5 separate regions of the Homo sapiens genome follow, and all the other regions are linked to region 3. Evidence: fine-mapped expression QTL. A gene starts in region 3. Each other region holds a variant in brackets. All regions are shown on one strand. Distances are between the middles of the regions.

Region 1 (5,810 bases), 330 kb before region 3:
CGAGCTCAGGAAAGCGGAGAGGATGACAGCTCTCGGCTCCTCCTGTCTCTCCCAAGATTGGAGAACGGCATGCTTACAACGCTGTCAGTACTCATGCCACCCAGCCACGGCCATCTGGAAGTTGTTAGCTGTTATTACCTGTGGACAGTGTGGATGGCACATGAGCCTCAGTTCCCCTCGTCTGTAAAGTGGGGGCAGTGATCCCACATCATGGATTAGAGCTGCCGTTCCCTGGGTGCCCATGTTGTGCAGTCAGGAGCCAGGCTCGGTGGCCACCCTGCCTTCTGCCACGCAGTCTGCCCCAGGCTCTGCAGAGCTCCGAGGAGGGGCCCCGGAGGCCTTGGTGGTGCAGTGCCATGCCCCTGGGAGGCTGGGGACACGTGTCCCAGGCCCTGACACCCTCGCAGGCCGCTCAGTGGATTACAGGGCCACAGACCTGTCCTGACAGGGCCACATACAGCTGCCAAGATGATGGCTGCTTACCTAGCAAACTCTAATGCCAGAAACCACCTTCTTCCTTCCCACTTCTCTGTAGCATTTGTGTTTTGATCACTTCTGACATCACTCAGCAGCAAAGGCCCCAGGACAGGCCCTGGCGAAATCTCTGTGGGGTGAGAGGGCCCTGGGCATGGGAGGGAGGCCTCACTATTGGAAATGGTCCCAAGAGCCTCAGGACCCTGTGGGAAGGCCTGGGCAGCCAGGCTTCCTCTTGGCAAAGCCAGGATCTCCCTGACCCCCACTTTCTGGTGGACAGTGTAGAGGTATTGGGGGGGCTGCCACTGAGTGGCAGAAGTGGGCAGGGGGACTCCCACACCCAGTGTTGCCCATGACCGGTAATGGCCGTGGTCCCACAGACCAGGGGCCCACTCTGCCCCTGGCACATGCCAGACCGCAGCTGTGCAGTCTCCCACTCCGTGCCCCCATCCCCCTGCAAAAGGGTGTTGTGTGTCCATCCTACAGATGGTGACAGGGAGACTCGGAGGAGGCACGTGGGGGTGCCCACCATTTCACCCCTCCCAGTTCCCTACCATGGTAGAACAATCACCCCAGAACTTAGTGGCTAAAACCAAGCAGAGTTACTTATTTTGCTCACAAATCAATGGTTGTCAGGGCCTGCGGGCAGCAGCTCACCTCAGTGACACAGGCTTCAGCTGGAGCAGCTGGGCTGGGGTGAGATCCGCCGCAAAAATGGCACACCACATGGCTGGCCAGGGGCCTGTGGTCAGCGCCTCCCCACGGGGCCTGTTCGGGGCTACTTGGGCTTCCTCACAGCATGAGGGCTGGGTCCCAAGAGGCAGGAAGTAGAGGCTGTCAGTTTCGGACCGCCAGCCCTGAAATTTTCTGAGCAATACTTCTGCAGCATTCTGTTTTGGCCAAGAAGTAAAAAGGTCCAGATTCAAAGGCAGAGACGCAGACCCCCACACACACCCCTTATGGGAGGTGGGTGGAAGGATGTGGGGGGCTGTTGTGTCACAGCTGTGCCGTCTGGGATGTTGACCTCCCCAGAGCTCTCAGGTGTGAACACACGTGTGGCCAGGCCTCAGTGCTGTCCTCTCCTATGGCTGTGATGCAGAGAGTCCCAGAACCAGGGCTCAGCCCGGGAGGGTTCTTGGCTTCACTCAGGAAAGAATTTGAAAGCCAGCTGGTGGTGGAAGGCAGGTTTACTTAAGCGGCCGTGTACAGAGAGTTGCTGCTCCTTGCAGAGCAGGGCTAACCCACAGGGAGTGCGCCAGGGTGAGTGCATAAGGGACTGTAGCTGTTTTTATACCCACTTTTAAGTATGTGCGAATTAAGGGGAAGGTTATTCAGAAATCTCTAGAAAGGGGGCGGCACCTTCCAGATGTTGCCATTGCGTTTGTAAACTGTCATGGTGCCGGTGGGTGTGTCTTATGCTGATGGGCAGAGGGGGCAGCTGGAGGAAGCTGTGTTAGTCTGTTCTTGCACTGCTATAGAGAAATACTTGATACTGGGCAATTTATAAAGAAAAGAGGGTTGGCTCACAGTTCTGTAGGCCGTACAGGAAGCATGGTAGCTTCTGCTTCTGGGGAGGCCTCAGGAAACTTACAGTCATGGTGGAAGGTGAAGGGGGATCCAGCACTTCAGCCAGTGGGAGCAGGAGGAAAAGAGAGAGGGAGGAGGTGCCCTTGGGAAATATCCTTCCAGCAGCTTCTGGTTGAGATCACATCCAGCTGCGGCATACTCAGGGTCTCAAGTCCTCACCTGCACACTCCAGGTGGTCCCGACAGCAGCTGCGACATACACAGGGCCTCAAGTCCTCACCTGCACACTCCAGGTGGTCGCGACAGCAGCTGTGACATACACAGGGCCTCAAGTCCTCACCGGCACACTCCAGGTGGTCCCTACAGGCTCCGTAAGCTGCCCGAGGTGCACCCCGGGGGGCCGCAGGGGCTCAGACCCAGGACACCCACCAGACTGCACAATTGGTGGCCAGCTTCTGGGGCAACCATCAGGGTCACAGTGGGAGAGGCACAATTTCCACCCAGAGCATCACTCTTCCCAATTCATGCCTGAAGG[C/T]GGGGCAGCCGCTGAGTACCCTGCCCAGGGGACCCGGAGGACACAGGTCAGTGATAGGCGTGGCCCCACCACTGCAGCCAGGGGCACTATGTGTGGTGGCGCCAAGCCCAGCATGGCCAGAAATGACACTGATACCCACACCAGGACACAGTGTCCCAGGGTGGTAGAGCTGGAAGGGCCTCTGCCACTTAGGGCTCCTGGTCCCATCCCTCATGCAATTTGTGGCCTGTGAGACCCCCTAAGGGAAAGTGACTTGTTCAATGTCACCCCAAAAGTCTGCAGTGGGGCCAGGACAGACAGGGCCTTGCCACTCAAATGCTCCGTGTGACGGCTACCCTGGTCCTTCCTTCCCCTCTTTCTCCTTCCTTCCTCCCTTTCCTCCTTCCTTTCTTCCACGCATCCCAGATGGGGCTGCAGGGCAGAAGGATCGGTGCTCTGCCCCCTTAGACCTGAAGGACGCCACTTCCTCTCTAGCCTCAGCTTCCTCAGCTGTACACTGTGAGCAATAGAGCTAACAACACCTGTCAGTCAGTCCAGGGGTGGCCACTGTGCCTGTGATTGCGCCCCCTCCCCACTCCCAGCCAGTGTGATCCTGTAGGCAGAGAGGAGGGGCTGCCAACCCAGAGGCCCCAGCAATGGGCCACAGACATGTCCTGGTCTCAGAGCCTTTGTGATATGGTTTGGCTGTGTCCCCACCCAAATCTCATCTTGAATTCCCACATGTTGTGGGAGGGGACCCAGTGGGAGGTAATTGAATTACGGGGGTGGCTCTTTCCATGCTGTTCTCGTGATAGTGAATAAGCCTCATGAGATCTGATGGTTTTAAAAATGAGAGTTTCTCTGCACAAACTCATTCTTTTTGCCTGCTGCCATCCATTTAAGAAGTGACCTGCTCCTCCTTACCTTCTGCCATGATTGTGAGGTCTCCCCAGCCACGTGGAACTGTAAGTCCATTAAACCTCTTTCTTTTGTAAGTTGCCCAATCTCAGGTATGTCTTTATCAGCAGCATGAAAATGGTCTAATACACTTCGAGACACTCTCCAGGGACTGCAGCTTCTGCTGCTCCTGGGCCTCGGGGACATCCAGAACCACTTTATTAAAGCACCCAAGGCCCAGGGCAGTGACACTGCTGGGCAGGACACCGCATGTTTCCCAGGGACCACCCTCCAGCCACCTCACATGGAGGTCAGGACCAGAGTGCCTGACGCAGGCACTCACATGGAGGCCTCGGGTTTGGGGTGTTTGCTTTAACGTCACTGACTCATGGGACCCCCGCTGTGAAAGCACCTTAGAGACCTTCCAGAACAATCCCAGATCAGAGGGTGACACCCAGGCCTTCCCTGGCCAGGGCAGCACTCGGGCCGGTCCTGACCCCCCCGCTCTTTCCTGACTCAGCCATGGCTGCCTTGTCTGCACTTCATTTTCTTGAAAACTGGGCAGAGTACCCAATGCCCACCTGGCAGCGGGGCCCAGGAGCAGCACCCCCACCTCTCTCGGCCTGTGTCCCTGTCTCCCTCCCCGTCGCTCTCCCTCCTGTCTGTCTGTCTTTGGTTTGAGCTGTCTCCTGGGTCAGGGCGGCCCCGCCTCTCTGATGGGCGGAGGGTCCTGATGTCCTTGGTCTGTCCTCAGCATCTGCTGTGGGACCTCAGGAGAAGCGCCACTCTGGACCCCAGGAGTGGGGCCATCCCCCATCCCAAATAGTGTCCCTCGTACTGGCACAAGGTCCAGGCCCCGGGTGGCCGCCTCTCCAGAGCCTGTGGGACCCTGTGGCCTGCACCACTGGGGCTTCTCACACCAGCCCCTGCCTCCCCGGCACTGGTTCTCTGGGTCTGCCTCTCCATCCACTCAGCCTCACGCCAGCCCCCGCCTCGCCACGCTGGTCCTCCCGGCCTCGCCTCTCCTTTGTGCAGCACCCCTGCCACCTGGCTTTGGTAGATGCACCTTCACCTGCTTCCCTGGACGAGGTGGGCTGCAGGCCACATCCTGTGAAGCGGGTAGGCAGCCCCATCCCAGGGCGTAAGCATGGTGTGGGTGCTGAAATGTTCTCATCTGCGGTTCCCAGGGCCAGCTAGGGGCCAGGCCTGTGCCATCCTCAACATATCACGTTGGGGTTGGGGGGGGGTCTGTGCTCACGGTGGGCTGCGTCACCGGCAGCAGGACAGGGCACGTGCTCCGTACCTCAGGGCTGAGTGCTTCCAGGGCCACCTCCTTGTTCCTCCCTCCTCTCCGCTCCTCCACCGCCCTCTCCCCTCCCACCTTCCGTGCACACTCACTGAGCACTGACAGGGCAGCCTGGGCTCCATGCTTAGACCCCGCACCACAGGTGTCATCCGGAAGGAGCTGGAGAGGCCGCAGTGTGGTCGGAGCTGACTAGGCCCGGCTGCTTGAGAAAACCGGCCGGATCCCGAGTTCAGCTGGGGCCCACACACCCACCGGAAACACACCCAGCAGAGCAGAAACCAGAAACGTGAGATTGTCTACCAGAAACACTTTCACGGCCGGGCTCCATCACGGCTGCACACCCACCTGCTGTCCCAGCCAATGGGGAATGCACGACCCATGCTGCTGCCCAGGCAGGAGAGCAGCAGCTCCCGGCACACACGGCGACTCCCACAGACACAGAAGGGCACACGCCATGGGAGCCACGGTCCTAAAGCTGGGATGAGGTCGAGGAATCCGCAGGTCCCAGGGAAGGAGGAGCTGCCGAGTCTGTGCTTCTCGCCCGGGGCTGCTGTGCAGGCAGACGCACGCTATGTCATGGGCCAGGCCGGACACTTCAGTCTTGGTGCTTTCTGCACGTGTACTGTATTCTGCCTTAAAGGTGTATTTAAAATGCCTGTAGAGGAACAAAATTCTCACTCTGCTGCTGACTGTGTGACCTTGGCTGAACCATATGACGGCTCCCAGCCTGCACTTCCTTACCTGTGTGATGGGAATGATAGCAGTGCCTTCTTCACAACCTCCAGGGAGGTTCCCCAGGAAAACGCCATGGCAGTTCTCAGCCGGGGCCTGGCCGCATGGCTACCGTCGAAGCTCTGCTGCTGGACCTGAAACGCCACGGCCCCAGTGCAAGACACCATCAGTGTGTGCTCTGTGGGGAAGCTGATCCGATGCACCTGGCCTGACATGGATCTTTGTGGGGTCCAGGGCCCGGGTTCTTCTCCAACGCACTGATCTCCTCCATCCCTGGCTCCCAAAATGCACCAGACAAGGAAAACCAGAAGAAATCAGATACAACCCTCAAGCGTTCCAGCCGGGGGGCTGGGATGTGCAC
Region 2 (5,810 bases), 46 kb before region 3:
CAAATAATTGTCACATAGAAGCACCTTCATGCAGGCAGGCTTTGCTTACTACAGGATGGAGCTCTAGGCACTTCATTGTAGAACCAGTGGAATATGAGGACTTTTCGAGAAGTCTTGAGGACATAAAGGACAAGAAAATTGTTGTTCCTTCTTTTTTTTTTTTTTGAGACGGAGTCTCGCTCTGTCACCCAGGCTGGAGTGTAGTGGTGCCATCTTGGCTCACTGTAAGCTCCGCCTCCTGGGTTCACGCCATTCTCCTGCCTCAGCCTCCCGAGTAGCTGGGACTACAGGCGCCCGCCACCACGCTCAGCCAATTTTTTGTATTTTTTAGTAGAGACAGGGTTTCACCATGTTAGCCAGGAATGGCCTCAATCTCTTGACCTCGTGATCTGCCTGCCTCGGCCTCCCAAAGTGCTGGGATGACAGGCGTGAGCCACCGCACCTGGCCTGTTTTTTCTTTATATCTCTTTTGGAATTAAAAACTGACCTAGCAGGATCACTTAGTAAACATAATACTTTGTGGCCGGGCACGGTGGCTCACGCCTGTAATCCCAGCACTTTGGGAGGCCAAAGCGGACGGATTGCCTGAGCTCAAGAGTTTGAGACCAGGCTGGGCAACACGGTGAAACCCCATCTCTACTAAAATACAGAAGAAATTAGCAGGGCGTGGCAGCATGCACCTGTAATCCCAGCTACTTGGGAGGCTGAGGCAGGAGAATTGCTCGAACCTGGGAGGCGGAGGTTGCCAGTGAGCCAAGATCATGCCCCTGCACTCCAGCCTGGGCAACAGAGCGAGACTCCGTCTCTTTTTTTTTTTTTTTTTGAGACGGAGTCTGGCTCTGTCGCCCAGCGTGGAGTGCAGTGGCGCAATCTGGGCTCACTGCAAGCTCTGCCTCCTGGGTTCACGCCATTCTTCTGCCTCAGCTTACCAAGTAGCTGGGACTACAGGTGCCTGCCACCATGCCCGGCTAATTTTTTTTTTTTTTTTTGTATTTTTAGTAGAGATGGGGTTTCACCATGTTAGCCAGGTTGGTCTCGATCTCCTGACCTTGTGATCCACCGGCCTTGGCCTCCCAAAGTGCTGGGATTACAGGCGTGAGCCACCGTGCCCAGCCCCATTTCTTAAAATAATAATAATAATAATACTTTGCTAGACAGACGCACTCTGATTCGCAGCTTTAAATATTCCGTTTCTACCACCTCAAGCACTTTGTTCAGGTACCATCTGACTTATAAAACCTCACATATTGGCTGGATACAGTAGCTAGTAATGTCTATAATCCTAGTGTTTTGGGAGGTCAAGGTTGGCAGATCAGTTGAGCTCGGGAGTTGAAGACCAGTCTGGACAACATGGCAAAACCCCATCTCTACAAAATATACAAAAATTAGTTGGGCATGGTGGCACGCACCTGTAGTCCCAGCTACTCAAGAGTCTGAGGTGGGAGAATCTCTTGAGCCCGAGAGGTGGAGGTTGCAGCAAGTGAGATCGTGCCACTGCACTCCAGCCTGGGTGACTGAGTGAGACTCTTTCTCCAAAAAAAAAAAAAAAAGTTCTCACATATGTAAGACATTAAGAAATGAAATGACGGCCGGGCACAGTGGCTCACGCCTGTAATCCCAGCACTCTGGGAGGCTGAGGCAGGCAGATCACAGGGTCAGGAGATTGAGACCGTTCTGGCTAACATGGTGAAACCCCATCTCTACTAAAAATACAAAAAATTAGCCAGGCGTGGTGGCGGACACCTGTAGTCCCAGCTACTCGGGAGGCTGAGGCAGGAGAATGGCGTGAACCCAGGAGGCGGAGCTTACAGTGAGCCGAGATGGCGCCACTGCACTCCAGCCTGGGCGACAGAGCAAGACTCCATCTCAAAGAAAAAAAAAGAAATGTCATCTCTGCATAGGGCTCCTGGGGATGCTGTGCCCAGAATATTCTACAAGTCTAATAGGGACATGTGACCCAAAAGACACAAGGGCCTCTAGTGCGCACAGGACGTCACCTGTGAGAAATGCGGTCATCAGTAGTAGCCCCACCGTGAACAGAGTTTCTGATTAAATCAGAGTCAGGCTGTCAGGCCATGGCCAGGGCCATGGACTGGGCCCCTGCCAACTCCCCATACGCCCCCAGCACAGAGAGTAGTGCAGTGCCGGTGTATTAGAGGCGGAGGTGCAGGCTGCTGTTCTTTGGAGTAGGATGTCAGGCTGGGATACAGAGGAAACAGAACAGTAATTTTCAAAAAGCACACTCCCTTTCCTCAGGTAACAGGTCTACCAGATGCTGGTCCAGCACCTCCTTTGTCCCAGATGCTTAACTGAGAGAGCACAAGTGGCTTTTACCTGGGATTTGCTGGTGCCCTGTGGGGAAGCCCCCTGAGTGAGCAGGGAGGGAGGGTTGGGCTACCTGGAGAGTAAGACAGGGCCTGCTCCACATGGGTAAGCCCACAGTC[C/G]CACAGACTCAGGGCAGATGGATGTATGGGTGCCCAGGCATTGCCTGTGGCCTCTGCATGCCTTTGGGGACCTCCTCCCCTGCCTGCACTTTCAGTGGCCAGCGTTGCAACAGGAACGTGGGCAACAGGCAGGTGGGCACCAGGTCGACCATGCTGGGTTGGGGTGAGGGCAAGAGGCAGCAGGGGGCTGCGTCGCTGCTCCCTTTGTGAGCTGCCTGGGACCCTCCTTTTCACCTTGGGTCTCTGCAGCAAGCAGGGACACGTGAGCATCTGACTCCCACCCTTTGCAGAGCACAGCCTCCCTCCACCTGGGTTGAGGTCAGCACGATTTCAACCTGAATTGTGCAAATGCAAGTTGCATTTCATTGTGTAATATTGCATAACCCTTAGATTAAAAGTGAGTAGTGTTAGACATTTTAGAACTTTTTCCTAGTACTTTTTGAGATCCAGTTTCCTTGTCACTGAAATGAAATGGTTAAACAAAGTGATCTCGAAGCTCCAAACTTCTGTCTTACACGTTCTCTAATTGCTCGACTTTTCACCTGCCATGCCTCTCCCTGGGCAAGGCTGTGGGCAGAAACCACCTGCCCCTGATGGGCATGTCCAATGGTTCCCCTTAGCCAGGACCTCGGGTTCTCCTCTCCAGCGAGGAGTAGGTCCACTCCACGTGCCAGTGCTGAGTCTGACGCTGCCCAGACCTCTGGGGACGCGGGGCCTCTGGAGTGCAGATTCCACGTGTGTGCACAGGACACTGTTGGTGTTGGCTGGTTAAGTGGTGACTGCAGAACGAGGTGCGAGCCTCCCAGTTGCTGCGAGCCAGCTTTGCCCAACCTTGCTTCACCACAGAACCCTTTTCTCAAAAGGCCCATTAACATTTTGGGTTCCCTAAAACAGTTGGGGAAGAGTTTGTGCATACCATGATACTGCCCAGTAGCATTTATTTTTAAATTGAATTAAATACCTTCCAAATTCATTTCAAGAGTGTTTCAGAATTTTTCAGGATGGTGCTGAGGAGTCCGTTGTTGGCATGGTTGCAGTTCCTGGTGGCGTGTTGTGTTGACACGTTCTCTAGAACGCATGCTGCGGAGCAGATGGTTCCGAGGCAGCCACGCTGAGGAAATGCTGTGTGCCTCATTCCTATCCGCTCATCCACGACTTCCAGAAAGCCTGCAGGAAAGAGGCCTTTTCATTTTGCTTAAGTACAGTTTCCCAAAAACAAATTTGCCGGCACAGTCCTCTTGTCAGAGAACACACGCCTCACACATTTTGGGAAAGGCTTTTCTACCCTATTGGGCTTACGCAATCAGCCTCAGCCCACCGAGTAGTTGGGGGCCACAGCCATGCACCACCAGACCTGGCTGCTGATGTGTTTTTTGTAGAGACGGTGTCTCGCGTGCTGTCCAGGCTTCCTCTTCGTTTTTATGTAGCCTGATGTCATATTGCCACAGGTCTCTACAAATGTTTCCTGAGTGTTATAATTCAGTGTGATTTGAGTAGTGTGCACATTAGATTGAACGGTGTCCGACTGATGGGAACGGACTGAAGCTGTGTCCTTTGGGAGAGCCAGTTCTAGGCCATGTGGAGAGTTGAGGAGGCCTCGAGGGTGTTCGTAGCCACCCATCGCTGGAGCCACCTCAAGCCATGATGCCTCAGGTTCCCACCCAGTCTACCCGAAGCAGAGGGTTGGCTTGTGGCTGAGACATACCCTGGAGGGGCGTCCAGGGACCTCCTATTGCTAGTGTACACTTTGTTTCCTCTGCTCCACAGGAAAGGAGATGCAGAGTTGTGGGCCCCGCCAGGAGTTTAGAGCAGGCCCCCCCCAACCCTGTGCGCAGTGGGGAAGAGAGCCTGACCTTCCCAGCAGCTGGACAGTCGTCCCCTCCCTGTTCAATGAAGAATCCCCTCTGTCCCTGAGATGCCACCTCTCTGGGCGTGCCTGGGTCTGCCTCTGGACCTCCTGCCTCCTCCTTCTGGCCGCCGGTTTTCATGTGCTGCGATGGCACTGGCTTAATTATACAGGCTTTTTAGGATGTTTAATGTCTCAGAGGGCGTGTCTGGCGTGTCTTTTCATTTCCAGGGTTTTCTTGGCTGTTCTTGGGGTGCGATTTTTCATGTGAACTTGGGTGTCAGCTTGTCTGGCTCCTTAAAGAAGCTCATTGGTGTTTTTGCTGGGATTGTGTTAAATTTATCAGTCAGTGTAGGAAGGACTGACTTGTGGGCGATTCCGAGCTGCGCTCTCCCAGTGCAAGAGGCGTCTCCCCATTATTCATGCACGCTTTGTGTCAGGTTTCAAAACCCCCATTTATTCATGCACACTTTGTATCAGGCGTCTCCCCATTTATTCACACGCTTCATGTCTCTCAGGCGTCTCCCCATTTATTCACAGGCTTCATGTCACGTGTCTCCCCATTTATTCACACACGCTTCATGTCTCTCAGGCGTCTCCCCATTTATTCACACACACTTCATGTCTCTCAGGCATCTCCCCATTTATTCACACACACTTCATGTCTCTCAGGCATCTCCCCATTCACATGCTTCATGTCAGGCGTCTCCCCATTTATTCACGCACGCTTCATGTCTCTCAGGCGTCTCCCCACTTATTCACACACACTTTGTGTCTCTCAGGAATCAGCTCTGCACATTTCTGGTGAAATGTGTTGATATTTTATTCCTAAGTACTTTTTTCTTCTTTCTTGCTATTGTAAATGCGGTTTTCTCCACTCTGCCTCCTAACTGGTTATAATCTGTGTCTGTGAAGACACTGATTTCTATGTTAATTTTTTTATCCTCTGCCTTTCCAAGTTTCTTCATTGTTTGTTTGAATTGGCTTTATCAAGTCTCTGGGTTTTTCATGTATAGTATCATATCATTTTGCAAATCTGAGCTCGTTTTGCTCCTTGTTTTCGTGTTCTTGTGCCTCTAGTGGGCTCCCCTTGTCCAGTCAGGGGGTGCCTCCACACAGGGACAGGTGGTTGCGGAGACTCCTGGGGGAGCTCCTCCTATTCCCCAGTGAGTAAGGTGCTGACTTTTGTTCCAAAGTGTGTCAGTATATTTTTATCATGCTAAAGTATCACTTCCTATTTTCTTTCCTTTTTTTTTTTTCTTATTTAATTTTCAAGACGGAGTTTCACTCTTGTTGCCCAGGCCGGAGTGCAATGGCACAGTCTCGGCTCATGGCAACCTCCACCTCCTGGGTTCAAGTGATTCTCCTGCCTCAGCCTCCTGAGTAGCTGGGATTACAGGCATGTGCCACCACGCCCAACTAATTTTGTATTTTTAGTAGAGAAGGGGTTTCTCCATGTTGGTCAGGCTGCTCTCAAACTCCTGACCTCAGGTGATCCACCTGCCTCGGCCTCCCACGGT
Region 3 (5,810 bases):
GCGCGATCTCGACTCACTGCTACCTCCGCCTCCAGGGTTCAAGCAATTCTCCTGCCTCAGCCTCCTGAGTAGCTGGGACTACAGGCGCCCGCCACCATGCCCAGCTAATTTTTACATTTTTATTAGAGACAGGGTTTTCACCACATTGGCCAGGCTGGTCTCGAACTCCTGACCTCAGGGAATCCGCCCGCCTTGGCCTCCCAGAGTGTTGGGATTACAGGCATGAGCCACGGCGCCTGGTCCTTCCTACTATTTTATTTCTTTTTTTTTTTTTTTTTGGAGACAGAGTCTTGCCCTGTCACCCAGGCTGGAGTTCCGTGGCGTGATCTCAGCTCACTACAACCTCCACCTCCCAGGTTGAAGCGATTCTCCTGCCTCAGCCTCCCGAGTAGCTGGGACTATGCGCGCCTGCCACCATACCCGGCTAATTTTTTGTATTTTTAGTAGAGACGGGGTTTCACTGTGTTAGCCAGGATGGTCTCGATCTCCTGACCTCGTGATCCGCCCGCCTTGGCCTCCCAAAGTGCTAGGATTACAGGTGTAGCCACCTTGCCCTGCCAGCCATTCTGTTTTTGTCTCCACATGGTCTTGTTGGAAGATTTCCTATCCTTGGTTTGAGCCCAGCTACACATTAACTCTCTGGGTTTGTCTGTCTGCGTCGGAGGAGGGGAGGGCAGTGTCCTTGAGTCTACTCAGCCAATTGTCCATGCATCTTTGGGGACCGTCCTGGTCCCGAGCCTGCCATCCGAAAGAGGGTGCAAAGCTGCCGCTGGTGCCACCAGGGAGGTCTGAGGACGTATTCTGGCACCCAGCCACATTTACAGAGCACCTGCTGTGTACAGGGGGGACTCTTTGTCAAGGCCCTGCTGTCTCCGGGCCAGCTGCCTCCTGGGGCTGCACGGTCTGGAAGGACCTCCCCAGGCAGGTGGCATTTGAATTGAGAAATAAATGAGACAGCCATGAGGCTCTGCAGAAGCAGCAGCTTGTGCCGAGGCCCTGGGGCACGCTCAGGAGATCTAGGAACAGAAAGGAAGCACGGCAGCTGGAGGAGGGGGCCGGAGAGCCGGGAGGCCAGGGCGGGCAGTGCAGGGCGTCCAGTCTGGCTCTAACTCTTCGGGCCAGGAGCCCCTGGAGGGTTTCAGCAGGAGGCCAGACTAGAGCCCAGGTCTCCTGGCTCCCAGCTGGGTGCCCTCAGTCCGTCTACTTCCTGTAGGGAGTGCGGGGCAGGCAGGGTGAGTCTCACGGGGCAGCTCTGGGGAGAGCTGTCTGAACTGACCCACCGACTTCTTGGCCGCTGACTCGAAGCAGGCGGTCACTTTCCTGGGCACAGGACAGGCTGCAGGGCCCCGTCCTCCAGCCCTCCCACCCTGAGGTCTCTGCTCCCACTCCAGCTGCCACGCACCCTCCAGACAACAGGGAGGGCGCTCAGAGCCCCAGGGGAGTGGTGGCAGCGGGCCCCTCCTCCTCACCCTCAGCCCCCAGGCCCTTCCCAGGCACTCCTCCCCCGGTGCAGGTCCTTCCTGGAGCTGCTGCAGTGGTGCCTCTGCCCTCAGACCTCGCCTGAGCCCAGCCTCACCCGTGCTGGGCCAGACACTCCCTGGCCCTGGTCCCGAGAGGGTCCATTTCCAAATGGAGTCCGCTGCCCTCACCAGAACCTCTGAGCAAATGCACAGGAGGGTGACTGGGGGCTGTGCCATCCCACCCCAAGAGCAAAGTGCCTGTGCAGCTGGGCTGGGCAGGGCCGTCACTGGGTGGTTTCGGCGCCTTGTGAAATCTCAGACCGCCTCCAGCGCAGACTCCAGATGAGAAGGGCTGAGCCCCAGGGCATGAGCCCATTCCCCACCCCAAGCCCAGGGAGAGCGACCTCCAGGCCAGCTGGCTACCGAGGGGCAGGGGAGCTTCTCCCGATGCCCAGGCCGGAGCCCCCACTCGGGGGCTTCGGGGCGGTGACCCCGGAAACCACCGGGGCTGAACCGCCTCTTCCCCTGCGCTGCAACTTCCTCCTTCGCGGAGTCGGGGGACCGAGAGAAGGGAATGGGGGAGGGGCGCCGCGCTCCGCAGGGTCTGCAAGGGAATTACTGGGGGTCTCAGAACTCCTCCTTCCAGCCCGCGGCCTGAGGGTCCCGCCCCCGTTCCCCGCACCCTCCTGGCCTGACCCCGGCCCGGCCTGGCCCGCCTGGCGCCCCACTTCCCCACCCTGTAAGTAGCCCGAGGTCCCGGCTGGGGTCTTGGGACACCCCTCCAGGCTGCAGCCTCCACCGTCCCTGACGTGCACTCACTCAGGCCGGACGCCAGCGCCTGTTCGTTGGCCCACATGGCCCACTCGATCTGCCCCATGGCGACACGAACCCGGCTGGGACACTGCTAGGCGCGCACTGCCGCCCCTGCGCTCCCGGCCGAACCCCGCCCCGCCCAGGCCCCGCCCCCAGCCCCCCAGGTGACCGCGGCTGGGCGGAGACCCGCATCTGTAGGGTGCAGGGCTGTCCCGGAGCCTTCTGCCCCCGCCCTCTCTAGCCACGCCGAGGCATAGGAGGGGCCCTGCCCGGCAGCCCCAGCCCAGGCGGGGAGTTCCTGCGCTTCCCCAGGGCTTCCCAAACTTCAGCTCTCAAACACTGACAAGTGCCCCTGCCCAATGCTCCGGACCCAACCGAGGGTCCCGTGTCAACCAGGCGTCTATTAATAGCAGGACAAGGTGTGAAGGTCGGCTTCCTGAGCAAATCGGCCTCTCCAGAGCCTTGGGGGGTGGGGGAGTCACCCCTACAGCCCGGGAACACCTCTGCACCCTGATGCTACCAAGGACAAGGGTGGCCTCCCCATGGGGACCAGAGGCCCAGCCCCCATTTCCTCCCCCTGGCTCTGGGCTGGCACAGGCGTGGCCTGGGTCAGACACTGCAGGGGGCCTCCCGTCACCAGGTCACTGAACTGTGACTGAGACTCGAGGGAGGGGACAGGATGTGTACAACTGGGAAAGCACAGAATGCAGGGACGGCCCCGTCACGTCCGGCCTGGGTACGGGAGGCAGGGGCTGGCGTGGGGGTGGTGAGCCCAGCGCCCATGGGAAGACTTTAGACCTGGGGTTGCTCCTGAGGGTCCCACCTGAGCCAATGTGGGGTTTGAGGGGAGCCCCTCTGTGGCTCTGCCCAGCCTGCCCCTCCCCCAGGCCCTCATGGGGCACACCTGGACTCCCTGACAGGTGCCAGGGTCACTCAGAGCAGGAACCCCGGGATGCTGGTTTACGAAACAGAAAAACGGCGGAGGCCGGAGGCAGCAATGCTGGTTTATTCCCCATGGCCACCGGGGCCGCACTGGTGCCCACTCCTGCCACCATTCCAGCCACACCCAGGCCGTGGGCAGCCACCCTCCGAGACACCTGGGCCGGGGGCAGGGTCTCAGCAGAAGCGCCGTGGGCAGCCACCATCCGAGGCACTTGGTGGTTTCCTGAGGCCCAAGGAGGCTGCTCCCAGCACGGTGACCCCTTCCCTGGTCCGCTGGAGGGACCACCTCCCCACTGAGCTCCTTTCTCAGAGAACTGGGCATAGCCAGAGCTGGGGTGAGAAAGCCCTTCAGCCCTGCTGCACCGAGGCTCTGCCAGTTCTCATACCCCCTCCCCATCCCATCTTGGCAAAGCGCTGGTGCAGCTTAGGGCAGCTGAAGCACTCGGCGGGGACCTCTCCTGACACCTGGGCGGCCGCAGGACTCCCTGCACTGCCCCACAGCAAGCTGCCCATGGGCCCGGGGTCAAGCCACCACCCACATGTCCCAGGAGTCCGGCCAGCCCACCACATCCGCTCCCTAGCTCCGGCGAGGCCACCCCTTCTCCAAGCGGCATGCGGTCCCTGCTGAGGCAGTCAGGCAGCTGGCTTCGGCAGGCCGTCAGGACCCAGGAGGTGGGCGCAGGGGTCATCCAGGATTTGAGGCCCTGGCCCCACCTGGGGATAGAAATCCATGTCAGGTCACCAGGAATGGCAGCGCCTCATCCTGTGCCCAGCATCTGTAGGGCCGGACACAGGAGGGTAGCGGTGTGCCCCCGCCCTTCCTGTGGGTCCTGGTCAGAAGGTAAAGCGCCTGAGTGGTGACACCCACACGCAGCTCCTGCAGGCACAGCCGCCCCTGCCAGCTGCGAGCCCCCTGCCCTGGGCACTGCTTCTGTCACAGGGGGGACAGAGAACCACAGAGCCTGGGAACAGGCAGCCCCTGAGAGGAAGGTGGCGGCAATGGCTTGGGCGGCCGTGATCACTGGATGCAAGCTTGGCCCTCGGAGCAGGTCAGAGGGCAGGAACTCCGGTCTGCTGGGGTGGTTGGGGTGGGGGGGTCCCAGGGACCCCAGCAGCCCCCACCCCAGGCGCTCCCTATTCAAGGGTCTGATACTCCCCACCTGTCTCCCTGGGAGCCTGTGTCAGACTCACCCTCCCACCCTCAGCGCAGCCCTGCTGCTCTGAGCATCACCAGTGGCCTGTAATGTCCACTTTGAGAGCAAATGAATGGACAAAGGCGTTCTGGCTTCCTGCCTGAGACACGGTAGGGACAGGGAGCCGCGCTTAGCCTTTAAGGGCCCTGGGGGCTGGGCGGGCCCCCCTGGCAGGAAAGGAAACCCCGGGGTACTGGGTGAGCCCCAGGCCTCACCTGAGTGACAATGATGTATTTGACCCCACCGGGGGTCGGCTCCATGGCCAGCGCAGCCTGAAGCTCAGCTGAGAGAGGGGCCGGCCTCACCTGCAGCCCCTTCAGAAACCTGGAAAAGCAGGGCAGGGGCACGGTGAATGCATCCGTTTCTCTAAGCGTCTACAACAGTCTACAACAGGCAAGTCCAGAGATGGGAAGTGCATTCCTGGCCGTCAGGGCTCAGGGAGGGGGAGACGGCAGGTGGCTGCTGTGGGGACAGGTTTCTTTTAGGGGTGATGAAAAAGTTAAGGAGGTGGCTTGAGGTGGTGCTCACATGACCCTGTGAATGTCCTCAACACCGCAGGATTATATGCTCTCGAATGGCTGAGACAGGAAATTTTAGGTTATGTGGTAAACAGCTATGCCCAGGCTGGACCCACATCTGGCCAAGGGTGCTGCCAAGCCCCATGGGGTAACAGCTCAGGGAAGCGCCCAATTCAAGCTGGTGCGTTCGTCACCGTGTTCTGCAGAACAGCGGAAGCCTGCAAGCCCCACCCGGAGCAGCAGCCACGAGCCTGGTGCTTCCCAGGCGGGCAGTCCTGGGGTGTGGGTCTGAGTCCACCCCACAGGGCAGGCCCCTGACCATTAGAAGGTGTTATTGCTCCCACCCGGGACAGACGCACATCCCCACACGCTTCCAGACACCCTTAAATGGGAGGCGCCTCTCACATTGAGAATAAGACACCATGAAAACACGGGAGGGAAGAAATCAACAGCCCCGGGGCGTAAGGAGGCTGGGCCAAGCTGTGCACCGAGGAGGGCGTACATGGGGGCTCTGTGGCACCCCCACAGAGCAGCGCAGGGGAAGAGGCGGTTCAGGGCCAAGCTGTGCACCGAGGAGGGCGTACATGGGGGCTCTGTGGCGCCAAGATGCAGCTGCCGGACCCCACCCAAGAAAAGACACCCAACTGCCGGGGCGGGGTCAACACCCGGCCGCCTTGACTGGCTCTAACTCGCTTCAGTAAGAAGGAAATCAGGGGCTTTGACTCCTTTCCTTCAAAATGTCGGACACTTACGCACACATCTGGGAGTGCAGGCGTGTTTCCTAAGCCACTGTTCTATAGAATAAGAGCCTGCGGGGTCCCGAGCTGCAGGGGACGCTGTCACTCAGGAGGTGGGAGACCCTGGGCGTTGCTCACACACGCGTG
Region 4 (5,664 bases), 320 kb after region 3:
ACATCTCCAGCCCATCTGCCTCTGCCCCACAGGGTCAGCAGAGCCTGCTGTGTGCCTCTCAGAACCTCAGTCTCTTCTTCTGTGATAGCAGTAACAGCAGCACTCCCAGGCTGGCTCCCCGACATGGAGCCCCCCAACACCATGTGGTCAACAAAAGGGGGGACAGGAGGCGGGAGGTGAGGTCTGAGGGTGCTGGGGACCTTGGGATGATGGCTGTGATGGCACTTTGCTCACAGACACAGGTCTGACAGCTACCATCCGGCCCCTTTGCAGGCACCCTTGGGGCTGCCTGTCTGTCTGTCTGTGGCCTCAGACGTCTTGTCATGCACACACTGACCTCCCTGCCTCTGGCTGGAGCCCACAGACACCCTGGCCGAGCTCTGCATGATCCACCAGCTCCAAAGCCCAGCAGACACAGGGCCTGCGGCTGAAGGAGGAGTCGGGCTGAGACCGCCCGGCTGCTCATGTCCACTCCCCCTCCCACCGCGCCCCCTTGATGGGGCACCTCCCATAACCGGGGCTGCCTGCAGCCTCTCCAGTGCCTCCCTGTGTCCCACCGCCTGGAGTGCAGAGTGAGTGGCTGGAGCTCTGGCCTAGGGTGGGCTGGGCCTTAGAAGAAGGAGGCAGAGGAAGATTTGGGAGGGAGGAGACGGCCTTGCAAAGACAGAGGTAGTGGCTGCGGCACGGCGGCCACAGCCCAGGAACACCTGGGACCAGCAGGACCTGGAGAAGGCAGGACCTGGAGGAGCACGGCCATCTGACGCCTTAGTTTCGGACTTCCAGCCTGCGGCACTGTGAGAACAGAAGCCTCTGTTGTTCTGAGCCCCCAGCCAGCTTGCAGCCCATCCTTACTGCAGCCCCAGGAGATAGAAACACCCGGGGAGGGCAATCCAGACCCAGAACATTCCAGACCCAGAACCTTCCAATGCAGAATATTCCGGACCCAGAACATTCCAAACCCAGAACATTCCGGACCCAGAACATTCTGGACCCAGGACGTTCCAGACCCACAACATTCCAGAGGACAGCTGGGCCTGGATGGCCACTTGAGGGGATGGAGGATGGAGAGTGAGTGGTGGCAAAGCCCAGCCCCAAGGGCAAGGTCGGGTAGAGGGAGCCCAGGCTGACCGCAGGCTCTGGACGTGACCCCTTTGCCAGGTGGGCTCCAGCCAGGGCTCAAGCTTCCTGCACGGATGGTGCCTTCACAGCATCTGCCCAGTCCCCATAACATCTGCCCGCCTTGCCCGGTCCCCATAACATCTCCCGCCTTGCCCGGTCCCCATAACACCCGCCCGCCTTTGCCTGCACCCCTCCACTGATAGTGCTCACCACCTCCCCGAGATCCCACGTCGTCCCTCTAAGGTGACACCAGGCAGGCCTGACTCAGTTTCTCCCCCATGGAGGTCCCAGCACATGGCACTGAAACTTCTCTGCCTCAGCCTACACTTGCCAGGTGGATTTCAAAATCTCTGTCCCTGGCACCCTCCTCGGGTGACCTGGTTCCCATCCCTCTCTCCTGAGGCAGTCAGGTCACCTTTCTGACCTCCGCCTCTTCTTCTGCAAAGTGGGCTTGGGGGGACAAGGCGGTGAGAGCCTGCACAGCTCCGAGCACACACAGCGGGCGCCTCGTAAACCCAGCACCGCAAGCACCGTCTTCAGGGGTTCCTTCTGCACCACTGGGCCCAGGGGTCAGTGAGGATCCAGACCCTCCGCGTGAGGGGGCTGGTGAAGGAGCCCAGGGAAGGGGTCCCGGCCCCCAGACGGCGGCGTGTGCTCTGTGGCCATCTTCTGATTGCTTACACCTCAGCCCCCAGGACGCTGTCAGAGGAGACGAGGGGCTGAGGTCCTCCCACCCCCTGCACAGCACACAGACGTCTCTCCTGCCCGCCACCAAACGCGCAGCAACACAGCCCTGCTCAGTACGCCTTTGGTCTAAAGACAGGAAGGTTCTTCTACTTCAGCTTTTAGAAATATTACTGTTCTCCCCAGAGTTTAAAGCCAATCGGCCTGTTTTCAGGCCTCAAAGGTTTTAGGAACTCTTGGGAGGCCTGTGTGCCTGACAGCCACACAGTGGGGCTGAGGTGCCCTCAGGTCTGTCCAGGACCCCCC[G/A]CAGTTCCCATGCCCCCCATGGCCCCCGCTCCTCCAGCCAGGCGAGGCTTGATGCCGAGGCTTTCTGGCATCACAAGGCTCCCACATCTGTCCCCTGGGGGCCTTGGGAGGCCCCTGGGGTACAGGATGAGAAGCCCCAAGTGCTGGTATTCACATGTAACTCTGCTGCCTGATGTGGCTAAGGCTGTCCCATGGGTACCCTGGAATAGGGCCGGGTGGTTGCACGGACAGAAGCCCCTAGAAGCCAGGGGCAGGACCCCGCACCCAAGTGAGACCCTGCTCCCTCCTCACATTGCAGCCCCTAAGCAGGGGCTCCCTGGGGGTGGGCACAGTGGCTGGGTACTCTGTGTTAGAGGCCACCCTGGCCCTCTGCTCCTGACCTGCAGCCATGTCAGAGGTCCACCCTGACCCTCTCTGCTCCACATCTTTAGCCATGTCAGAGGTCCACCCTGACCCTCTGCTCCTCACCTGCAGCCATGTCAGAGGCCCGCCCTGACCCTCTGTTTCATGCCTCTAGCCAGCAGCCCCTCGCATGACTCAGGCACGGGGCCACCTCTTGGCCCTAACCTCCTTCCACGGTAGACACCCCCGTCCTTCCACAGTAGACGCCCCCATCCTAACAAAGCGGCGGCTCTCCATGCGCCTCAGAGCCCGTCTCTCTCCGCGCCGGTGAGAACCTGCTCTCACGCGGGGAGCAGGTCGGAAGGGTCTGAACCATGAGGAAACTGAGGCCCAGGGAGGAAGCACCCGGCCCAAGGCCACTCAGCGCCAGGGGATAGACAGGGCCGCTCCAGAGAGGACGGGATGGCAGATGCCAGGGCCAGTGGGCTGGTGCTGCCTTGAAGGTGGCTCTGAGTCACCCATTCGGGAGAAACGAACAGTAGCACTGGCTGTGGTGAGGTCCGGCCTTTGCATTCCGGGCACCCGGGGTTGGGAAGTTCCTGCTCACATCTGGGGCCCTTGTGGGGGATGGCCCTGGGGCCCCACGGGCAGCTGCAGGTGGGAACAGCCTCAGGCAGCCGCCGCCAGGACCTGCTCAGGGAATGTGGTCTCCAGAGATGGGGACACCCCTCGGTCCCGGGTTCTGTGTGTGAGTGTCAGGGGTGCAGTCAGACCTTGGACCTGACGGCCTCAGTGAGAGCCCCGCGAGACGGGAGACTGTGAGCTCCTGAAGGTTCCGACGGCTGCTGGGAGTGTGGCCACGAGGGCCACTGGGAATCGGGGCCACCAGCCTGCAGCTGCAGCCCCCAGCGTCCGGGGATCCTTGTCCTGGGACTTCGCAGGCTCGGGTGGGGGGTATCAGCAATAGCTGGCGTCCTGCTGGACTGGACCCCTCCCCAGAGCCCGAAGCCCCCAGAAGGGCAGGCCCAGGTTCCCCGTAAACCCCCACTGCCCTGGCTGGAATCGTTCCTCGGACAGGGGCCCAGGGTTGGGTCCATTTCCTCCTCACCGGGGTCTTGGGCCAGTGCCCTCCCCTCTGGCCTCAGTTTCCTCATCCAACCTGCTGTGAGGTGTCACACCCGGAGGGCATCCCAGGAGGAGGAGGGCTCTCTTTCTAGGACCCCCCCATCACTTCCCGGCTGCGGCCCTCCCACCCCCAGGAGAACACAGCCCACCCTCCTAGACGGGGCTGAGCAGCCCGGCCTCCAGCATCTGCCTCTGGGTGGGGCTGGGGCACCTGGCTGGCACCTGCCAAACCCTCACCAGCCCACCTGCCCCAGCTGTGCAGGACCTGCCTGTGGGGTGGCCCTGTTGATATCTGAGGTGAGTCAACACGGCCATCCGTGCCGGCACTGTCAACTAAGCTGGGCAGGCCCCGCGAAGCTCTAAGGAGTCACAGCCCCGGCACCGGCTGCCGCTCTCTGCCCCCACCCCACCACCTTCCCCTCGAGCCTCTTACCTGGGCCGCCCTTCCTGGGACCCCGGGGTGCGGAGCAGCCGGCAGATGCCAGGAGGCCGCTCTCCAGCACAGGGTGCGTCTGGGACATGGAGCCACAGGTGGATCCCGAGGCTGAACTGGCTGCCCTGTCCCTCAGTCTTGAAGCCGGCATGAGGAGGGCCACCCTCAGGGGCCAACCTGGAGCCCAGGACAGGCCTCTACCAGGACTGCCTTTCCCGACCTCCTGCAGCCTTGAGGGAAAGAGGAGGGGCTGGGCCAGCTGGGGCGTCCTGGAGTTGGGCCTCTGTCCCTGGAAAGCCGAGGCCCTCCCGGCCACCAACTGGGTGTCCTCTGCCCTGGGGAGGGGGTGGGAGCCCTGGGGCTCATGTGACGCGGGGCGGGCCTGGGGCTGCAGGCTGGGGAAGGTCTCCCTGCAGCCTGCGGGTGAGGCAGCCAGCTGTGTCCCCGTGATAATGCCGGGGCCGGAGGCCTGCAGCTGCGCCCGCCACTTCCCTGACAGGAACCATCTGGGGCCCTGCCCTGCGCGGCCTTCCCTCGGGCCATTCCGGTTTGACCTTCCAACAACTTCCTCCTCCCAGGCAGCTCTGGTGACGTCCCACCCACCCTGAGCCCTACAGCGTGGCCACTGGGCATGTGTTTCCTCGGCCCCAGGGCAGGTGTGCAGGCCTGAGGGCAGCTCCATCCTGGCCCAGAGCCCTTGGCCTGTCCCGCCCACCCATCTTCCCCCCAGGGCTTGGCCCTTCCTTCAGCCTGGGGTATCTGGGGGTGTCCTCCCTCTCCGCTAGCCCTCAGTCAGCCGAGCTTTCCCCAGCACCCCTTTTAGTTTGCCCCCGCTCCAGGGGCCACCCTGCCCGTGTTCCTGTGTCTGCTGACTGTGCCCTTGAGCAAGGCGGGGCCTCTGACCAGCCTCTCCTCAGCCCCTGCTCCGGGGTTCTTGGGCACCTGACCTGTCCTCAAAGTACCTCCCGCCTGCTGGGAAGGAAACCCTCTCTCTCTGCTTGGCCTCGTGCACAGGGCTCCTGGCCCTCTGTGGAGACAGCAGGGCTCCCCCACTCTCCGGGGGTGCCTCAGAAAGACCCTCACCCCACGCCCCAGCGGCCGCCTCCGGTGAGCAGCCTGGAGTTTGCGGGGGTCGGGGGTAGGTGGCTTCTCCAGTCTGGGAAATTCCAGAAGCCACCTCAGAGCACTCTTGGGACTACTTAGACCCTAGGGAGAGTCCTAGGACCCCTTTCTAGCGGCCGTTGGGCTGAGAGAGTGAGGCACATCCCAGATGCTGGGAAAAAAAGCCACTTTCTAAAGCTCCCTGACAACTGTCAGAGGGCAGGAGCTTCCTGGGAGGGGACAGTGACCCTTCGGCCCTGCAGCCCTGGTTCGGTGGCTTTTCTGATGCCATGGCTGGAGGTTTCCCGGCCTCAGACAGGCCAGAGGTGTGGAGCCCGCAGACCCAGGGCCGGCTCACGGGCATCTGTGCTATTTTGATTTGATTTGATTTGAGTTTTAGGTCACGTTTGCACGCAGTTAATAATTCAAGCCGTGCAGGAGTAAAAGCCGACTCCTTCCCCGCAGGGTCTCCAGGTGTCCCGGGTCTCCCTGTCCCAATAGTCGAGTGTCTTTCTCGAGTTGGTGACAACAAGCTGCATGCCAGCGTGTGTGTC
Region 5 (5,810 bases), 25 kb before region 3:
CACCTTCCACGCTCTCTGGTCTACTCTGGGCCTGTGTTTTTAGCAGATGACAGAACAGTCCAGAACTGAAGTTAAAACTGAGGCACATAAATGGAAATTCGTGGCCTTCTCCATGGGTCTGGGTGGGTCCTCAGTGGGCTTGGGCTGGTGAAGAAACACCCCCAGGCCCCTTCCGACACCTTTGTTCACTCCCCTAGGTCCCGGTCCTTCTCTTCGTCCCCGTCCCCGTCCCCAACACCTTCCCCACATAGACCTTCCATCAGAACCAAGGGAGAGCCGGCCCCGCCGCCCGGGAAAGCAGGGTGAGTGCCCAGCCTGTGGGCAAGTCCTGGCCGGCCAGGCCTCCACAGGCTGCAGCCTCCTCCCTCCGTCTCTATCTCTCATTTGTGTTTGGGACCAAAGAGGTGAGGATGCCTCAGGGGGCTGGCCCCAGGGGGTGACTGGGCTGGGAGGCACTGGGCACAGCTCCTGTTCTCACGGGCCACCCTTACACAGCAGCACTCCCTCGGGAACCCTGGGGACAGAGCACAGCCCTGGGGACACGGCAGCAGCCGGGTGTTCTTAAGGGGTCTTCCTATTAGCCTGCTCTCCCCACTGCCTGGCGGTGCCTGTAGCTCTTGCCTGTTAGAGGGGAGCCTGGAAGGGCTGCTGGGGGCTTTGAAGCCGTTCCCAAGCACTCTGACACCGATGGGTGGGGAGCCGTGTCCAGGCACGAGCGTGCTCACCGAGCGTCACAGGCATGCAGTGTCGTTCCCCGAGCTGTGGGTCCATTGAAAGGGGATGTAGGCCAGCGGGGCCCCGTCCACCAGCCCTGCCCTGCTCGAGCCTCCCTGTCTCACAGAGAGAAGTCAGTGAAGAAGCCGGCCCCGCCTCCAGCCCCACCACAGGCCACCAAAACCACTGCTCCTGTCCCCGAGCCCACCAAGCCAGGAGACCCTCGGGAAGCCAGGAGGAAGGAGCGGCCAGCCAGGACCCCCCCCAGGAGGTGAGCACTCCGGCGTCCGGGGCCCTCAGGCTTTCCGTGTTCTTGGTGCCACTGTGATGCTGGCACTGCTGGAAATCCAGAGTGCCAGGGTCCAGAGCCAGGTGGTGGGAAGCGCCCCCTAGCCGAGCAGCACCCAGTGAGCCCTTACCCGGGAACCTGCCCTGTCCCCTCCCTGAGCCTGTGTTTCTGGAGCGTGAAGGGGAAGGGACAGCGTGGCACGGAGCACAGGCCTTCCCGCCATGGCCCCGTCTGCACTGGAAGGTGCTGCCCCCGAGAGACTGTACTTTTTATCTTGACAAAACACTGAGCCTAAAGGAAGACAGGCCCAGGCCCTGTTCCAAGGTGGTAGCAAGGCCAGTCTGGAGGCTCACCTCACAGGGCTGCTGGTGGGGAGGGGAGGCCGCGAGGGGCTGTGGAGGCCACGCCCCCTGAGCCCCGCTGTTGCTTGTATTACAGGCGGACGCTAAGCGGCAGCGGCAGTGGCAGTGGTAGCAGCTATAGTGGTTCCAGCTCCCGATCCAGGTCATCCCCATCACCCTGTGCCTCTGTTTCTCCCTCCCCGTCGGGGCCAGGAAGTCCCAGAAGCAGCCAGTGTGGGTTGGGCTGTCTCCCACAGGTGGGCTGGGGCCCTTCTGGATCTGAGTCACCCTGGGGCTGTGGAAGGCTGCGGTTGAAGCTTTGACACAGGAGAAAATGGGCCAGGACTCGTGATAGGAAGACCCCCTCCCCCCACCAAAAAAAGATTCACAAACTCGGGGGCACTCAGGTCAGGAGGAGGTGCCTCTGCCCTGCTGACTTGATGCCCAGCACCCTGAGAGAGCACCTGCACCTGGGGAGGAGCCGGCAGCTTCCAGCCCAGCAGGGCAGAGGCTGGGCCTGCGTGACCTATCACACCTGTCGAGGGAACCGGCCTGAGGGGGTGGGGAAGCCGATAAAAACATCTGAGAAGAGAATACATGGAAAAGCTTTGTGGGCCAGGTGCGGCGGCTCACACCTGTGATCCCAGCACCGTGGGAGGCCAAGGCAGGAGGATTGCTTGAGCCCAGGACTTGACCAGCCTGAGCAACATAGACCCCATCTCCACAGAAAAAGATTTTTTTTTTTTTTTTTTTTTTTGAGACAGTTTCATTCTTGTTGCCCAGGCTGGAGTGCAATGGCGCGATCTCGCTACCTCCGCCTCCCGGATTCAACCTCAGCCCCCTGAGTAGCTGAGACTACAGGCGCACACTGCCACGCCCAGCTAATTTTCTGTATTTTAGTAGAGATGGGGTTTCACCATGTTGCCCAGGTTGGTCTCAAACTCCTGAGCTCAGGCATTCCACCCACCTTGGCCTCCCAAAGTGCTGGGATTACATGCGTGAGCCGCCGCACGCAGCCTAATTTTGTATTTTTAGTAGAGACTGGGTTTTACCACGTTTCTGATCTTGAACTCCTGACCTCAGGTGATCCATCCGCCTCGGCTTCCCAAAGTGCTGGGATTACAGGTGTGAGCCACTGCACCCAGCCCAGAAATTTTTTTTAATTAGCTGGGTATAGTGGTGTGTGCCTATGATCCCAGCTACTTGGGAGGTCAAGGTTGAATGAGCTGTGATCACGACATTGCATTCCAGCCTGGACAACAGAGATCCTGTCTCAAAA[C/CA]AAAAAAAAAGGATTTTTGCTATTTAGTTGTTTTAAAAGAAAGTATTAAATCAGTCCTTAGATTCCTTGCATAGAACTCTTTCATTTCCAGGCAGCAGGTCGTTTATATATTTGTCACAGTTCTTTGTTTCTTTTGTTTGTTTTGTTTCTGGAGAGACATGGTCTTGCTGTGTTGCCCAGGCTGGTCTCAAACTCCTGGGCTCAAGTGATCCTCCCACCGTGGTCTCCCAAACTCGTGGGATTATAGGCATGAGCCACCGCGCCTGGCCTAAATGTTTCTTAATAAGTCTGAAATGTTTTAAAGACCTGACTTTTGAAAAAAAAAAATGGTTCTCTTACATTCCCCCGTTCCTTGCTCCGGTACCCAATGTACCTGGAAGACGTGGTTGGTGTTTTCTCGAGCAGCATATGGGCAGGGCAGACTCAGGTGCCAGTCCTGTGTGCTTTGTGTCCGTGTTGAGTGCACGCCAGTGAAGCTACAGACCTGCTGTTTCCAGTCTGTCTGCCGTGTGTTCCTCAGGCATTCCCTGAGACTGCGGAATTGCTCCTTGTGTTTTTAATTTCCCTGTGGGCTGAGGCTATCTCCCTTTTGTCTAAGCCAGGGACTCTGCTTAAATTCCATCCTTGCCGCTGTTGAGTCAGCTCAGTCCTGTTTCCCTTCCCAAAAAGCAACCTGACATTCGTTTTGTTTTTTGTTTGTTTTGAGACGGAGTTTCACTCTTGTCGCCCAGGCTGGAGTGCGATGGCATGGTCTCGGCTCACTGCAACCTCCACCTCCCGGGTTCAAGCGATTTTTTTGCCTCAGCCTCCCCAGTAGCTGGGATTACAGGCGCCTGCGACCACGCCCGGCTAATTTTTGTATTTTTAGTAGAGATGGGGTTTTACCATGTTGGCCAAGCTGGTCCCGAACTCCTGACATCAGTTCAGCTGGGTCTCAGACCCCATTGCTCGTGACGAGATCTGCCCATCTCAGTCTCCCAGAGTGCTGGGATTACAGGCGTGAGCAGCCGTGCCTGGCTGCAACCTGACATTGATTAGTGAAATGGGGCCCTGGCCTAGCCATGGGGACGTCCCTTACTTTGTAACCCTGAAACTGCCCAGTGTCCCCCCAAAATCACACATTCCGTGGGTACATGATCCATAAATGGACACTGCGTAAAAGTGGACCATGGAGCACCCCCTGCTGGCCCCTCCCTCCAGTCTGGCTGGGGTGTGGTGAGATGTGCTTGTGTGTCCAGGTCCCTGAGCGTGAGCAGCGTCTCCTCAGTGTCCAGTGCTACGTCGAGCAGCAGCTCTGCACACAGCGTGGACTCGGAGGACATGTACGCAGACCTGGCTAGCCCCGTGTCCTCAGCCAGCTCTCGGTCCCCGGCCCCAGCCCAGACCAGGAAGGAGAAAGGTACTCAGGAGCCCTGGTACCTTTGGGGAGCAGCTCCCGGGGGAGGAGGGCGGCATCAGCACAGACTTTGCCTGGCTGTTGGTGTGGCCATGGGAAAATCACCAGTACCCCCATGACTGCGGATTTATCATTGGTAGGAAAATCTAAGAAAGAAGACGGTGTTAAAGAGGAAAAGCGGAAAAGGGATTCGTCCACACAACCACCCAAATCTGCAAAACCTCCAGCAGGGGGGAAGTCCTCCCAGCAGCCCTCGACACCCCAGCAGGCACCCCCCGGGCAGCCCCAGCAGGGCACATTTGTGGCCCACAAGGAGATCAAGTTGACACTGTTGAATAAGGTGAGGGCAAGGGCCCTCCTGGTGGCTGCCCCAGCGTCTAGGCCTGGGTCCATCTGCTTCCTGAGACAGCTTCCTCCTGGGGGACGGAGCCTGAGTGAGGGCGAGTGGGGCCTTGCAGGTGTCAGCACAGCCTGGGTAACAAAGCGAGACTCCATCTTTCCGGCCTGGGCTGGGAAGTGTGAGCATCTGGGGAGGTTTGGGTGCTGCTGGCCTCTCTCTGAACAGAGAGGGCGTTCTCTTCGTGCCTGTGGCCGCCATTCCCTGCCATGCAGTCTCAACACAATACAGGAAGCCTCCGTCCCTGTCCTCTGTCCTCAGCAGGACACATCCCTGTCCTCTGCTGGAAGGGCAAGAGGCCTGGCTTCATGGGTCCCAGGTCCTCCTAGAGTGGCCCCCGTGGGGAGCAGGAAGGCCTGCAGGGTGCTTCCCCTGGAACGTGAAGGGCCCCAAGTGCACAGTGGGGGTGCCCTTGGTCCGGGTCCTGGAGGCCTCACTCAGGGCTACGGGGTCTCATGGGTGTGTGGTGGGACCTTTGGGAGCAGAGCAGGTTGCTGGCAAGGAACCCATGTCCTCTGGGGCGAGGACACGGCTTCTGGCTCCTGGCCCTGCTGTCCTCACTGGCCTCTCTCTTGTCCCAGGCGGCTGATAAAGGAAGCAGGAAGCGCTATGAACCATCAGACAAGGACAGGCAGAGCCCTCCTCCAGCCAAGCGGCCCAACACATCCCCAGACCGAGGTGAGCCTCCCAGCCCCTAGGGGGCAGGGCAGAGGGACGGGAGCCTGGGGATGCGGAGCAGCTGGGTCTGAGACCCCATTGCTCTTAACAAGTAGGAGGAGGGTCCAGAGAACATCTGACTTGCAGATGATGCCTGTCGGTATTTAGGGTGTTGAAAACTAAAACGAAGAAAAGGTTTTAAATATTTGTTTAAAAATAACAGGACCGGGCGTGGTGGCTCACGCCTATAATCCCAGCACTTTGGGAGGCTGAGGCCGGCAGATCACTTGAGGTCAGGAGTTCCAGACCGGCCTGGCCAACCTGGTAAAACCCTGTCTCTACTAAAAATACAAAAATTAGGCCGGGCGCGGTAGCTCATGCCTGTAATCCCAGCACTTTGGGAGGCCAAGGTGGGCAGATCATCTGAGGTCAGGAGTTTGAGACCAGCCTGGCTAACATGGTGAAACCCTGTTTCTACTAAAAATACAAAAAATTAGTTGGGCGTAGTGGCGTGCGTCTGTAATCCCAGCTACTTGGGAGGCTGAGGCAGGAGAATCGCTTGAACCTGGGAGGCAGAGGTTGCAGTGAGCTGAGATTGCACCATTGCACTGCAGCTTGGGCAACAAGAGCAACTGTATTTTTTTTTACACATGTGCCATTTTTGCAAAATATATTTTCCAAAACAAATGAGCAGGAATGGCATTGGTTTTTCCATTTTTGCAAATCTCTTCAGTCTG

What was found. PIP is the estimated chance that this variant, and not a neighbour inherited with it, causes the effect.
Region 1: its variant is fine-mapped to the expression of CYBA in monocytes after Pam3CSK4 (Quach 2016, PIP 0.95).
Region 2: its variant is fine-mapped to the expression of CYBA in whole blood (TOPMed, PIP above 0.99).
Region 4: its variant is fine-mapped to the expression of CYBA in non-classical monocytes (Schmiedel 2018, PIP 0.95).
Region 5: its variant is fine-mapped to the expression of CYBA in whole blood (INTERVAL, PIP above 0.99).

The regions. Positions count from the first base shown.
Region 1 is chr16:88,322,905-88,328,714 of GRCh38, forward strand. It overlaps a transcript of ZNF469 not described here. Among named protein-coding and RNA genes, the nearest start is that of ZNF469, 57 kb to the right of the region's middle. The variant C/T (reference allele first, on the strand shown) is at 2,536.
Region 2 is chr16:88,602,818-88,608,627 of GRCh38, forward strand. The region is part of intron 6 of ZC3H18 (zinc finger CCCH-type containing 18); the gene reads left to right. Among named protein-coding and RNA genes, the nearest start is that of IL17C, 33 kb to the right of the region's middle. RefSeq lists an enhancer at 4,334-4,834. The variant C/G (reference allele first, on the strand shown) is at 2,445.
Region 3 is chr16:88,648,677-88,654,486 of GRCh38, forward strand. It overlaps CYBA (cytochrome b-245 alpha chain), which reads right to left and starts at 2,377. Exons shown (of 6, transcript NM_000101.4): 1 at 2,280-2,377. The coding sequence starts at 2,337. MVD (mevalonate diphosphate decarboxylase) reads right to left here. Exons shown (of 10, transcript NM_002461.3): 9 at 4,624-4,732; 10 at 3,264-3,929. The coding sequence ends at 3,849. RefSeq lists enhancers at 715-1,610, 1,611-2,504, 2,505-3,399, 2,827-2,976 and silencers at 1,987-2,136, 2,287-2,566.
Region 4 is chr16:88,972,648-88,978,311 of GRCh38, forward strand. It overlaps CBFA2T3 (CBFA2/RUNX1 partner transcriptional co-repressor 3), which reads right to left and starts at 4,560. Exons shown (of 12, transcript NM_005187.6): 1 at 4,010-4,560. The coding sequence starts at 4,160. RefSeq lists enhancers at 334-403, 584-743, 2,685-3,229, 2,882-3,091, 4,932-4,981. The variant G/A (reference allele first, on the strand shown) is at 2,110.
Region 5 is chr16:88,623,761-88,629,570 of GRCh38, forward strand. It overlaps ZC3H18 (zinc finger CCCH-type containing 18), which reads left to right. Exons shown (of 18, transcript NM_144604.4): 11 at 198-302; 12 at 842-985; 13 at 1,442-1,507; 14 at 3,862-4,022; 15 at 4,160-4,359; 16 at 4,998-5,094. Among named protein-coding and RNA genes, the nearest start is that of IL17C, 12 kb to the right of the region's middle. RefSeq lists enhancers at 3,834-4,550, 4,551-5,265. The variant C/CA (reference allele first, on the strand shown) is at 2,624.